Regions from separate parts of the Homo sapiens genome. Here regions 1, 2 and 4 are each reported to be linked to region 3. The links are microRNA targets in miRTarBase. Many come from high-throughput screens and were not tested one by one. Region 3 holds a microRNA gene; each other region holds the end of a gene's coding sequence.

Region 1 (3,000 bases), not on the chromosome of region 3:
CTTATTCTTTATAAGAGAAAATCTGTGTATACTGTTACAGCTGAATGGCATTTGGTATATGGCATGCCAGTCTTCCACATGTACTGATGTTTAAGAAAGGCTTGGATCCAGTGTGTATTCTGGATGTCGGGGGAAAAAAAGGCTTGGAAACCAGGTTATCCTATTATTTAAAATATTAAAAATTACATTATTTTAGAAACAGAGAACCAAATACAAGCTGATACTACCATAAAATTACCATAAAATAGTTTTGCTCTTTTTTCACTGTTTACACCTTTCCTCCCTATATTAAGTTGTTAAGTACTTGAGAAACGTACTTAACACTGAACTTCCCAATATATTTGGGAAGGTATGATATGAATGTTAAGTATAAAATAATACGGGTAGTTAATGTTAAAAGAACTCAGAGGAAATTTCCCCGCAGGGTAACTACAAAGATGTTTTCTATGCTGCATTTGTCCCGAGATGTTTATGTAACTCATTCCTCTATCTCAATCATTACATACCCCTCATTACAAACACTCCTATGTGCTCTCTGAGCTCATCTGAAGAGAACAGAATTGAGTCGATGATTTGAGTTATGATTTTCTCCATTCTCCTAGGGACTGTACATAATTAGTACCATTCTAGATGACACAGGGACTTAGGGCTTTTTCTCCTGCAAACCTAATTGAGAAAGCCTGTGATAGACACTAGCACACCTCCTTCTCTTTCCCCCTACTCCCAGACTGCTCTGGCCTCAAACCCATCCTATCTATTTCACCAATGGCCAACACTGTCCTGTCTGCACCCAGAGTGAGAAGCTCCCACAGGGAAAAGTTATTTTAAAATATCCAACTTTATATATTTAAAGCCTCATATTTCCTCATAAGCTACTATTTTTCTCTCCCATTCCTACCTTTGTCAAGCTCAGCATATAACAAGTCATCTTTTTGTGACATCAAAGTCTTCAAAGTCTTTCTGGAGATCTAGAATCTACAATTTCTAAATATTTTGCATAACGCATAAAGTGCATATAAATTGAGTTATCCTATATCTGTGAACTGATGAGAATTATTCTGCTCAAACAGGTGGTGAAAACCTTTGCTTGACTCTCCTAAAAGGATAAACAAATACTAAAGAAAGATGGCTTTCAACTACAGTGAGGTTCTTGTGATATGTGCTACTGGAAAAAGTACATTTTTACCAAGCCATAGCAAATAATTTTAAAAGAATATCATTCCACAGTATATGGATCTTTTTCATTATACTGCAATGTAATTTGAAACTAGATTATTTTCCTTGCTAACACTGAGAAGCAACAATTTGTTTAGATTATCTAGTGATGACCTTTTTCCTCTTAAAGGTGACAATGATTCTAAAACAAGAACATCTGAAAACATTTGAAAAAACTATCCCAACACTTCAATACATTGGAACAGTAGTCATATCACACTATACTATAGACCATGGGTTGATAAATTTTTTCCATAAACAGACAGACAGTAAATATCAGGCTTTGTGGGCTATAGTTTCTGTGGCAGCTACTCTGCCACAGAAAAGCAGCCATAGACAAGTAAAAGAATGATCTTGGTTGTGTTTCAACAAACTTTATTTATGAACACTAAATATTCATGTTAATTTTCAAGTATCATAAAAGTCTTTAAAAAAAAACATTTAAAATTATAAACACAATTCCTAGCTCACAGGCCATAAAAAGCAGGCAGCAGGCTGGATTTGATCCACAGGCCATAGTTGGCTGTCTCTTAAACAGGCTTTTATACGTTATGCAAAGTGTTTCAAATTCCAGAGACTTTGGAGACTTTTCGTTTTTTAGATTTCTCATTTTAAAACACACATAATACAAGTTTTCTTTCTGGATCAATATACTCACGAGAGAAAATAATTCAGAAAAAAATAAAATTCCTTACTTAAAAAAAGGGAAAAGCTATAGAACAAATGTTTCGTCTTAAAATATATTTAGGAAATGTAAAATTAAAGATTAAAAATTTTATTCTATGCAACATAAAATAATATGCATAAATCTGGCACATAATTTCTTTGTTTTTACTTTAGAAAAAAGACAGTAAGAAAAAAGTTTATAAATTTCTCAGTCCCTTTTATACAAAGTTGCAACTAAAACCAGCAATCACTTATATGTACAACCATCAACTCTGAATACAATGTGAATTATACCTAGGAACTGTAATTTACCTAGATGAGTTCTGCCTGCTTTATGAAAAACACACACTTATATCACAGAACACCGTGGCTTCTACAATTTGTAACAATTTTGAAAACGAAACTCCTGCCTCCATAATATAAGGAAACAAGAGTACTCTTTCCATAGTCATCATCCTGTATAAAAAAAACTTCATAGTCTGATTTACCTTTGTCAAAGGTAAAATGATTCACATTTGCTTGGATTACTCTGATCCTCAGTAGTTCCTAAACACAAAATAAAGTTTGCATGAACCTTTATCTGGGTTTTCCAAAGCAAGTATTATGCTGGCAGAAGTCCATGAGCTGAATAAAAAGATACTAAATATAAAAGGTTTACCAACTTTATCCTTTCTTAATTTTACGATAGCTTCAGGTATTGAGACCTAACTGGTTTCCTGTGCCTATCCATTGTGAACACATCTCAATCTTCTACTTTTAACACTCCTCAGCACCATATTTTCGTTGTTTCTTTATTGTGCGACGTAGAAGATCCTTTCGTCCAACTTCAATCATTTGTTCTTCCCAAGACTTCATTTCATTATGATAACGAGTTTCGTCCTCTTTAGCATGCTGAATATATAACTGAGAAAAAGCATAACTGTTAAAATGATTTACTTATTTTTTGAGATAAAATGATTATTTAAAATAGCAATTAATTTCTGGAATGCTTCTGTATATACTTTAGAAATTACATTACCATTCTACATGTATAAAGGCAGACTGGAGAAGAAATATTTTCATGAGATAAAAGTTAGATGATGAAAATGTAAGAGATAGACTGTTATCTCTTTGAATGAA
Region 2 (3,000 bases), not on the chromosome of region 3:
TTCCCCTCCTATTTCCCCAGGTACAGAGCATGCCAGCGCCTCAGCTAATGGGGTAAGTGCAGTGTTGGAGCTAAGGAGGGTGTGGGGTCTGCACGAACTACAGACCAGACGTCTTCAGATGCCCACGGCCCGGCCTCAGGAGCCTGGGTCTTTTCTCCTGGTGCCTCGAGCAGCATTTCCCAACCCTTCCTGCTGGGCGGAATCCCCTGTAGAGTTTGCTAAGACGCAGCCCCAGACAGTCTGGTCTGTGATGGGGCCAGGGAATCTGCATTTTAATATCCGCTCTCTCCCCCCTGCCCCACGCCCCTTCAATTCCACCCATGGCCACACCTTGAGAAGCACTGCCCTGGCTTCCAGGGAGAGAGGAGGGGACGGGCCTGCAGTTCTTTGCACATGGGGCTTCAGTGGGAAGATGTTTGATTTTGTTCAAAAGAGCCCCAAGGCTAAAATTTGAAAACCCTCTTCTAGCATGTCTCCTATTCAGCTGTGAGCAGAGAGAACAGCTCTTCCCAGGATCCACAGACAGAGGGCACAAGGTGACAGCGTCGGGACTGAGAGGGGAGAGAGACTGGAGCTGGCAAGGACGTGGGCCTCCAGAGTTGGACCCGACCCCAATGGATGAAGACCCCCTCCAAAGAGACCAGCCTCCCTCCCTGTGCCAGACCTCAAAACGACGGGGGCAGGTGCAAGTTCATAGGTCTCCAAGACCACCCTCCTTTCATTTGCTAGAAGGACTCACTAGACTCAGGAAAGCTGTTAGGCTCACAGTTACAGTTTATTACAGTAAAAGGACAGAGATTAAGATCAGCAAAGGGAGGAGGTGCACAGCACACGTTCCACGACAGATGAGGCGACGGCTTCCATCTGCCCTCTCCCAGTGGAGCCATATAGGCAGCACCTGATTCTCACAGCAACATGTGACAACATGCAAGAAGTACTGCCAATACTGCCAACCAGAGCAGCTCACTCGAGATCTTTGTGTCCAGAGTTTTTTGTTTGTCTTGAGACAGGGTCTGGCTCTGTTGGCAGACTAGAGTACAGTGGTGAGATCACAGTTCATTGCAGCCTTGACTTCTCAACGCCAAGTCATCCTCCCACCTCAGCCTCCTGAGTAGCTATGACTACAGGTATGTGCCACCACGTCTGGCTAATCTTTTTATTATTTGTAAAGTCGAGGTTTCCCTGTGTTGCCCAGGCTGGTCTTGAACTCTTGGCTCCAAGTGATACTTCTGCCTTGGCCTCCCAAAGTGCTGAATTAAGCAGCTCACCATCCACACGGCTGACCTCATACATCAAGCCAATACCGTGTGGCCCAAGACCCCCACCATAAATCACATCATTAGCATGAACCACCCAGAGTGGCCCAAGACTCCAAGATCAGCTACCAGGCAGGATATTCCAAGGGCTTAGAGATGAATGCCCAGGAGCTGAGGATAAAGGGCCCGATCTTTCTTTGGGCAAGGTTAAGCCTTTACTGCATAGCAGACCACACAGAAGGGTGTGGGCCACCAGAGAATTTTGGTAAAAATTTGGCCTCTGGCCTTGAGCTTCTAAATCTCTGTATCCGTCAGATCTCTGTGGTTACAAGAAACAGCCACTGACCCTGGTCACCAGAGGCTGCAATTCAGGCCGCAAGCAGCTGCCTGGGGGGTGTCCAAGGAGCAGAGAAAACTACTAGATGTGAACTTGAAGAAGGTTGTCAGCTGCAGCCACTTTCTGCCAGCATCTGCAGCCACTTTCTGCCAGCATCTGCAGCCAGCAAGCTGGGACTGGCAGGAAATAACCCACAAAAGAAGCAAATGCAATTTCCAACACAAGGGGGAAGGGATGCAGGGGGAGGCAGCGCTGCAGTTGCTCAGGACACGCTCCTATAGGACCAAGATGGATGCGACCCAAGACCCAGGAGGCCCAGCTGCTCAGTGCAACTGACAAGTTAAAAAGGTCTATGATCTTGAGGGCAGACAGCAGAATTCCTCTTATAAAGAAAACTGTTTGGGAAAATACGTTGAGGGAGAGAAGACCTTGGGCCAAGATGCTAAATGGGAATGCAAAGCTTGAGCTGCTCTGCAAGAGAAAATAAGCAGGACAGAGGATTTGCTCTGGACAGAGATGGAAGAGCCGGGAACAGAGAAGTGTGGGGAAGAGATAGGAACCAGCAGGATGGCAGGGGCAAAGGGCTCAAGGGTGAGGAGGCCAGTGGGACCCCACAGAGTTGGGGAGATAAAGGAACATTGGTTGCTTTGGTGGCACGTAAGCTCCTTGTCTGTCTCCAGCACCCAGAATCTCATTAAAGCTTATTTATTGTACCTCCAGCGGCTGTGTGCAATGGGGTCTTTTGTGGAAATCAAGGAGCAGACAGGTTTCATGTGTACTGTCACCACGTGGGATGGAACCAGAGGCATGGAAGCAAGACGCTAAATGAAGAGGGCCATAAGGGCTGGGATTCCCAGGCACCTTAGGAACAGCTTGTCTTTTTTTTTTTCCTCTCCAAAAAAAATGTTTAAGGGACGGTGTCTCCTGTCACCCAGGCTGGAGTGCAATGGCACGATCATAGCTCATTGCAGCCTCTAACTCCGGGGCTCAAGCAATCCTCCCACCTCAGCCTACCAAGTAGCTGTGACCACAGCTGCCCCTCACCATGCTAAGCTAATTTTTTTAATTAGATAGTACATAAACGTCCCAAAATTAGAAGATAAAAAGACATGAGGGATCCATTCTAATTTGTGTTTGGAGTGTAATGGTCCAGCTCCATTCTTCTGCACATGGATATCCAGTTTTACACAACACTGTGAATGTAATGAATGCCACTGAATCATACACTCAAAAATAGCTAAAATGGCAAATTGTCTGTTATCTCTTTTTAACCACCATTTTTGAAAATTAATTATACCAAAAAACCATTGAATAGTGCACTTTATTTATTTATTTATTTGTTTATTTATTTATTTATTTTAGAAATAAGAGTCTCACTTTGTTGCCCAGGCTGGAGTGCAGTGGCGT
Region 3 (3,000 bases):
GATGTCTGAGATTCTTCCTTCTGTCTGGACCTCTAGAGACCTCGAAATTGAGCCAGGCCAGACCTACTCCAGTGACCTTCTCCTAGGGTCTCAAATGGTGCAGTGGAGCCAGGGTTCCCTGAGCCCTTTGACATTCTCCTCACTTAGCTCACACACTTTCCCTCTCCTCCCTGAGGCTAGAAGAGAAATCAGAACTTGGTCCTCACAGCTTGACTTGCCACCATCTTTTCCCTCATTTCCACAAGTTGCTGGGATCTTGAGGGCTGGGTTTTCTCACTATTTCTCACTCTTCTCTGTGCTTCCCTACTTCTATAACTTCAAGCTTCTTGTCTTAGTTGGGAGGGGTATCTTCTTTGCACGATGGGAAAATTTTGGCAATTAGAATCCTCTAGGCCTCACCCTGGATAGGTTACAATGGTTGTCAAAAGTGTGATCATGCCCAGGAACTTCTGGAAAATACAAATTCCCAGGCCCTGCTCTAAGCCTAATGAATTGGGAACTCTGGAGTTTGAGCCTAGCAATCTGATTTACCAAGTCTTCCCCATGATTCTGATGCACCCTAAAGAACCATGGCATTAAATATTTCAGCAAATTCTCTCTCTCCCTCTCTACCAACGCCTTTCTTACCATTTTTCATGCCTAAACTCTTATTAGACAGACCGGATACTCCCTCTTAATCTAATTGATTGATTAGCTACATAAACTCAAATCATTTTGTGATTAAAAAAAGAAATGTATAGCCTTAAAAGCAAAGGAAATTCTGATATATGCTACAACATGGATGAACCCTAAGGACATTATGCTAAGTGAAATAAGCCAGTCACAAAAAGACAAATACTGTAAATGATTCCACTTGTATAAGGTACCCAGGGTAGTCAAATTCATACACAAAAAATGTAGAATGGCAGTTGCCACAGGTTGGGGGAGGGGAGATTAGGGAGTTTTGTTGAGTAGGTACAGAGTTTCAGTTCTGCGAGATGAAAAGAGTTCTGGACATTGGATCTACAAAAATGGGAATATACTTAATGCCACTGAAGTGCACCCTTAAAAAACGGGTATACCAGCAAACCAAATTCAATAGTACACCAACAAGATCATTCATCACAACCAAGCGGGATTTATCTCTGGGATGCAAGGATGGCTCAACATATATAAATCAATCAATACTATATATCTTCTCAATAGAATGAAGAACAAAACCAGATGATCATTTCAAGTGAAGCTGAAAAAGCATTTGATCCTTTCATGATAAACATCCCTTCATGATAAAAGTCCTTCAAAAAACTGGGTATAGGAGAAACATACTTCAACATAATAAAAGCCATAGATGACAGACCCACAACTAGTATCACACTGAATGGGAAAAAAATTGAAAGCCTTTCCTCTAAGATCTGAAGCACAACAAGGCTACCCACTTTCACTACTGGTATTCAACATAGTACTGGAAGTCCTAGCTAGAGCAATTAGACAAGAGAAAGAAAAGGCATCCAAACTGAAAAGGAAGAAAGCAAATTATTTTTATTTGCAGATAAGATGATCTTATATTTGGAAAAACCTAAAGACTCCACCAAAAAAACTAGCAGAATTGATAAACAAATTCAGTCAAGTCACAGGATACAAAATCAACATACCAAAATCAGCAGCATTTCTATTAGGTTGGTGCAAAAGTGATTGCAGTGTTTGCCAATAAAAGTAATGACAAAAACTGCAGTTACTTTTGCACCAGCCCAATATATGCCAACAGTGAACAATCTGAACAAGAAATTTAAAAAGTAATCCCATTTACAATAGCCACAAATAAAATTAAATACCCAGGAATTAACCAAATAAGTGAAAGATCTCTATAATAAAAACTATTAATATAATACACTGATGAAAGGAGTTGAAGAAGATACAAAAAATGGAAAGATATTCCATGTTCACAAATTGCAAGAATCAATATTGTTAAACTTCTCAAAAGAAGACATATAAATGGCAAACAGATATATGAAAATGTGCTCAACATCATTGATTATTAGAGAAACGCAAATCTAAACTACAATGAGATATTATATCATCCCACCCCCGTTAAAATGGCTTATATCCAAAAGACAGGCAGTAACAAATCCTAGTGAGGATGTGGAGAAAAGGGAACCCTCGTACAGTGTTGGTAGGAATGCAAATTAGTACAACCACTACGGAGAACAGTTCAAGGTTTCTCAAAAACCTAAAAAGAAAGCTACCATACGATCCAGCAATCCCACTATGGGGTATATACCCCAAAGAAAGGAAATCAGTACCTCTAAGAGGTATCTGGACTCCTGTGTTTGTTGCAACATTCTTTACAATAGCTAAGATTTGGAAGCAACTTAAGTGTCCATCAACAGATGAATGGATAAAGAAAATGTGGTACTTACACACAATGGAATATTATTCAGCCATTTAAAAAAATGAGATCCTGCCATTTGCAACAACATAGATCAAACTGGAGATCACTATGTTAAGTGAATTGAGCCAGGCACAGAAAGACAAACTTTGCATATTCTCACTTGTTTGTGGGATCTAAAAATCAAAACAATGGAACTCATGGACACAGAGAGTAGAAGGATGGTTACAGAGGCTGGGAAGGGTAGTAGGAGGCTGGTGGGGAGGTAGGGATGGTTAATGCATACAAAAAGGTAGGATGACTAATACCTACTCTTTGATAGCACAACAAGGTGACTATAATCCATAATAATGTAATTGTACATTTAAAAATAACTAAAATCGTGTAGTTGGGTAGTTTGTAACACAAAAGATAATGGCTTGAGGAGATGGATACCCCATTCTTCATGATGTGATTATTATGTGTTGCATGCCTGTATCAAAACATCTCACGTACCCCATAAATGTATACACCTACTTTATAACCACAAAAATTAAAAATTAAAATGTTAAAATAAAAAATGGGTAAGATGGTAAATTTTGTTATAAATATTTTTAATTTTTAAATTAAATTTTTAAAAATAAAAATAAAGGACT
Region 4 (3,000 bases), not on the chromosome of region 3:
CATCAGCTTAACCCCCATGCACGGTATTCAAAAAGAACACAGCTTTCGAATTAGAAAGATCACTTAAATTAAAAAGAGAAATTAAGTACTAAAATTAGGAAAACGCTGGATTTCTTTTGAAAGGAATCTTCAAGTACCAATACGTATAGAGAAATACTAATTTTGGTTACAGTTTCCTCCTTACTGTTAAATATACAAACTATAATACCTTTCAAAATAAAATACCCACATAAGATAGCTTTAATAAGAAATATTCAAGCCAGAACTTGGAAAAACATTAAGCAAGAAATTTACTGGGCTGATAATGTCTTAATTTGTGATCATTCAAACATTTGATGATGTGTCTCCTCTTGTAGACCCCAGGCTCTCTCCCTTTTGGTCCCCACAGTTAAGAGACATTCAGTTGGTTGTGCTTGAGACAACCTGTGATAATTTCATTCAGAGGAAAAATATTTTGCAATATAATGACAGACCAAGAAGGAAGAGAAGGTGGGTGCTCTGGAGAAAACTTATATGAGAAAAACACAAAATTATCACTTGAAAATAAAAAGATTTTTTTTTCCAAAGGAATGCTGCACCCATTTCACTTAAGATTAGAAATCCAGGTTAAAGGCACTGGGATGTACTCCTCACCATGAATAGACTCTCAATTACATTTATTCGCATGTCTGAGTCTATTGCAATCAGCCTGCTTGCTGAGTGCTTCCATGACACTCTTACATAAAAACCTAATGTAAATTAAACATGTTTGAAACCGTTTATAATGTAACTAGTTTTATAAAAATATCCAGAGTTGCTAATAAAGCACCAAGAAAAAGAGAACCTCAGGGGGAGGACTCAGATCCTTCCTACAAGGTCACCCTTTTATAATATTCTCTAATAGGACCTCCAGAATGACAACAGTCATCTTTGACATGTCCTACCTAGATAATCTTAGGGATGTAGAACATTGCTGTGGTGACTATACCCAAATGCCACTTTTCATTATAAATAGTTAAGAGACATGTTACAAGATTTCATGGCTTACTCTTAAAAAGGTAAAATAGGTGCAATTTTCCTTTAAGAAAGTCTTTATTTTATAATATACCATTAATATTTTGATGTTCCCTTCAGTAAACACTGATATAACTACACTGGGACTACCGAAGAACTGTGTAGTAGCTATGGTTATCTACAAATACTGTATTTTTTTCACTTGAATACAGTATTTGCACATTTAAAAAAAACATTGTACAAAATAAAATTATATAAATGAAAGCCTCAAAGAAATATCCATCACTAGGTCTTTGAGCTGAAGTGACCAAAGACCACAGTAAATGAAAACATTTCTAAACATGATGTAAACATAAATGAAGTAATGCAAAACATCAAGGTATTCAAATCTACTGTATTGCTATTTTCACCCTTAATGTATCTTTCTACATAGCTTTCTCCTTTTGGAACAGTAATACATGGGGCAGTACATTATTTTCATAACCTTATGCCATCAAATCAATTAATACAGATGCTTGACACATTTAATTATACAAAATCAATTTGCTTCAAGATACAAAATTAATGTTGATATGTAATTAATGAAAAAAATAAGATGTTAAAAAGATAACTATAAGAATATCCAGATATATGCTGTATTCCCACTTATATAGATCTGATCAATAAAACATCAACACATTCACTTAGATACTGATTTAATCCATGGATCAAGGCCATATTTTCAAAGTATTTTAAGGATGCCAGGACACTGCAAAAGCTGGAGAAAAGAGCTGAGGAACAACATATGCTTGCTAAACAAGAACTATGTTTATTTAGCTAGTGAATACCTAGAGTAATAAATTTTTACTTCATGATAGCAATCAGGCTCGCAAACACCCAGAAATAGGAATTAAGGGTTTTAAATGTAGTTATAAAGGTCATAAAAAGTCTGATTAGACTGAGGTACATTTACTCAAAATTTTGAGATTCATTAAGTGGTAGCAAACAAAATAATTCCTCAGACAAATGCACATTTTTCAGTATACATATTAATGGGGGGAGGAGGGAAGAAGAATGTGCATTAACTGGTGAAATCCACCAAGCTGCATATCAATATTCTGTTACACCAAACAGTTTGAAGACAAGGGAAATGTTCTAATATAATTTCAGATTATGTTTCATTTGGCTAAAATAGAGCTTAAGGTTGCTTTGCCATATTAAAAGTTTACTACAATAATTTTTCACATCAACATTTAGACTTGAACTCCAGGACTAAATATGGCATGATTATTTTGCTTTTAATCTGTCAAATAGCTAAAAATCGACAATTTAAAAACTACAACAAAGAAAAAGTTGAAGCAGTGTGACTCTTACATCATTGAACCACTTCTAATGGTTAACTGTTAGTATTTAACAAATTCAAAGAGTTAATGAATCCTTGCATTCATTCAGTCTTCTGTGCCTTAGCTAGGATGCATAATTACAAAAGACAGCAGATACTGGTAAAAGCTTCAGGACAGAAAGTGCTTGACGAAGTTACAGTTCTCAAGTGTGTTTGGTGAAGAGTATAAGGGCAGATGCGCTGATGAAAACCATTACGAGAAGAGTCAACTTTGTGTTAAAGTGTTCAAAGATGTCACCTTAAGCAGAAAAGAGCTTTAATACGTCTTCTTTGACTTATTAGGCATTTCCAGAGTCTACATCGTTAGTGTTGTAAATTTAACAGGACATCTTCATACGGTTATTGTTTGTTTCTATTTCTCTCCTGAAAAAAAAAAAACACACACACACAAAAAGAATTACAATGAAAAACTCTCATTATTTAAAGATTTAAACTATATGCACATATAATGTAAATCATCTCCATATAAAGTTCAAGTACTAATTCAAGTAATTAAAAACAATTGATAATTACCTCTATATACCATAGTGAGATTATTACCACAAAACATTTTACATAAAGAACTCTCAAACACAAAGACCTATTTCAGGAGAGTATAGATCCTCTCCACATCCCTATTGTTTGTT

The links. The annotated mature microRNA hsa-miR-548ah-5p reads AAAAGUGAUUGCAGUGUUUG and lies in region 3 at 1,664-1,683, shown strand. An mRNA with a match to its seed (bases 2 to 7 or 8) in the 3' UTR can be bound and repressed. Matches are read on the target gene's strand: a 7mer-m8 pairs with bases 2 to 8, a 7mer-A1 pairs with bases 2 to 7 and ends in A, and an 8mer does both.
Region 1: the mRNA of TFAM is a reported target of hsa-miR-548ah-5p. Seed matches in the 3' UTR shown: 7mer-A1 at 1,006-1,012.
Region 2: miRTarBase lists PVR as a target of hsa-miR-548ah-5p. Seed matches in the 3' UTR shown: 7mer-A1 at 2,911-2,917 and 7mer-m8 at 2,967-2,973.
Region 4: miRTarBase lists YTHDF3 as a target of hsa-miR-548ah-5p. Seed matches in the 3' UTR shown: 7mer-A1 at 2,592-2,598.

The regions. Positions count from the first base shown.
Region 1 is chr10:58,394,712-58,397,711 of GRCh38, reverse strand. It overlaps TFAM (transcription factor A, mitochondrial), which reads right to left. Exons shown (of 7, transcript NM_003201.3): 7 at 1-2,784. The coding sequence ends at 2,638. Among named protein-coding and RNA genes, the nearest start is that of TFAM, 11 kb to the right of the region's middle.
Region 2 is chr19:44,661,272-44,664,271 of GRCh38, forward strand. PVR (PVR cell adhesion molecule) reads left to right here. Exons shown (of 8, transcript NM_006505.5): 7 at 21-52; 8 at 469-3,000. The coding sequence ends at 540. Among named protein-coding and RNA genes, the nearest start is that of CEACAM19, 8.7 kb to the right of the region's middle.
Region 3 is chr4:76,573,898-76,576,897 of GRCh38, forward strand. It overlaps MIR548AH (microRNA 548ah), which reads left to right and starts at 1,654; the gene lies at 1,654-1,729. The region is part of intron 2 of SHROOM3 (shroom family member 3); the gene reads left to right.
Region 4 is chr8:63,209,420-63,212,419 of GRCh38, reverse strand. It overlaps YTHDF3 (YTH N6-methyladenosine RNA binding protein F3), which reads right to left. Exons shown (of 5, transcript NM_152758.6): 5 at 1-2,737. The coding sequence ends at 2,714. Among named protein-coding and RNA genes, the nearest start is that of YTHDF3, 42 kb to the right of the region's middle.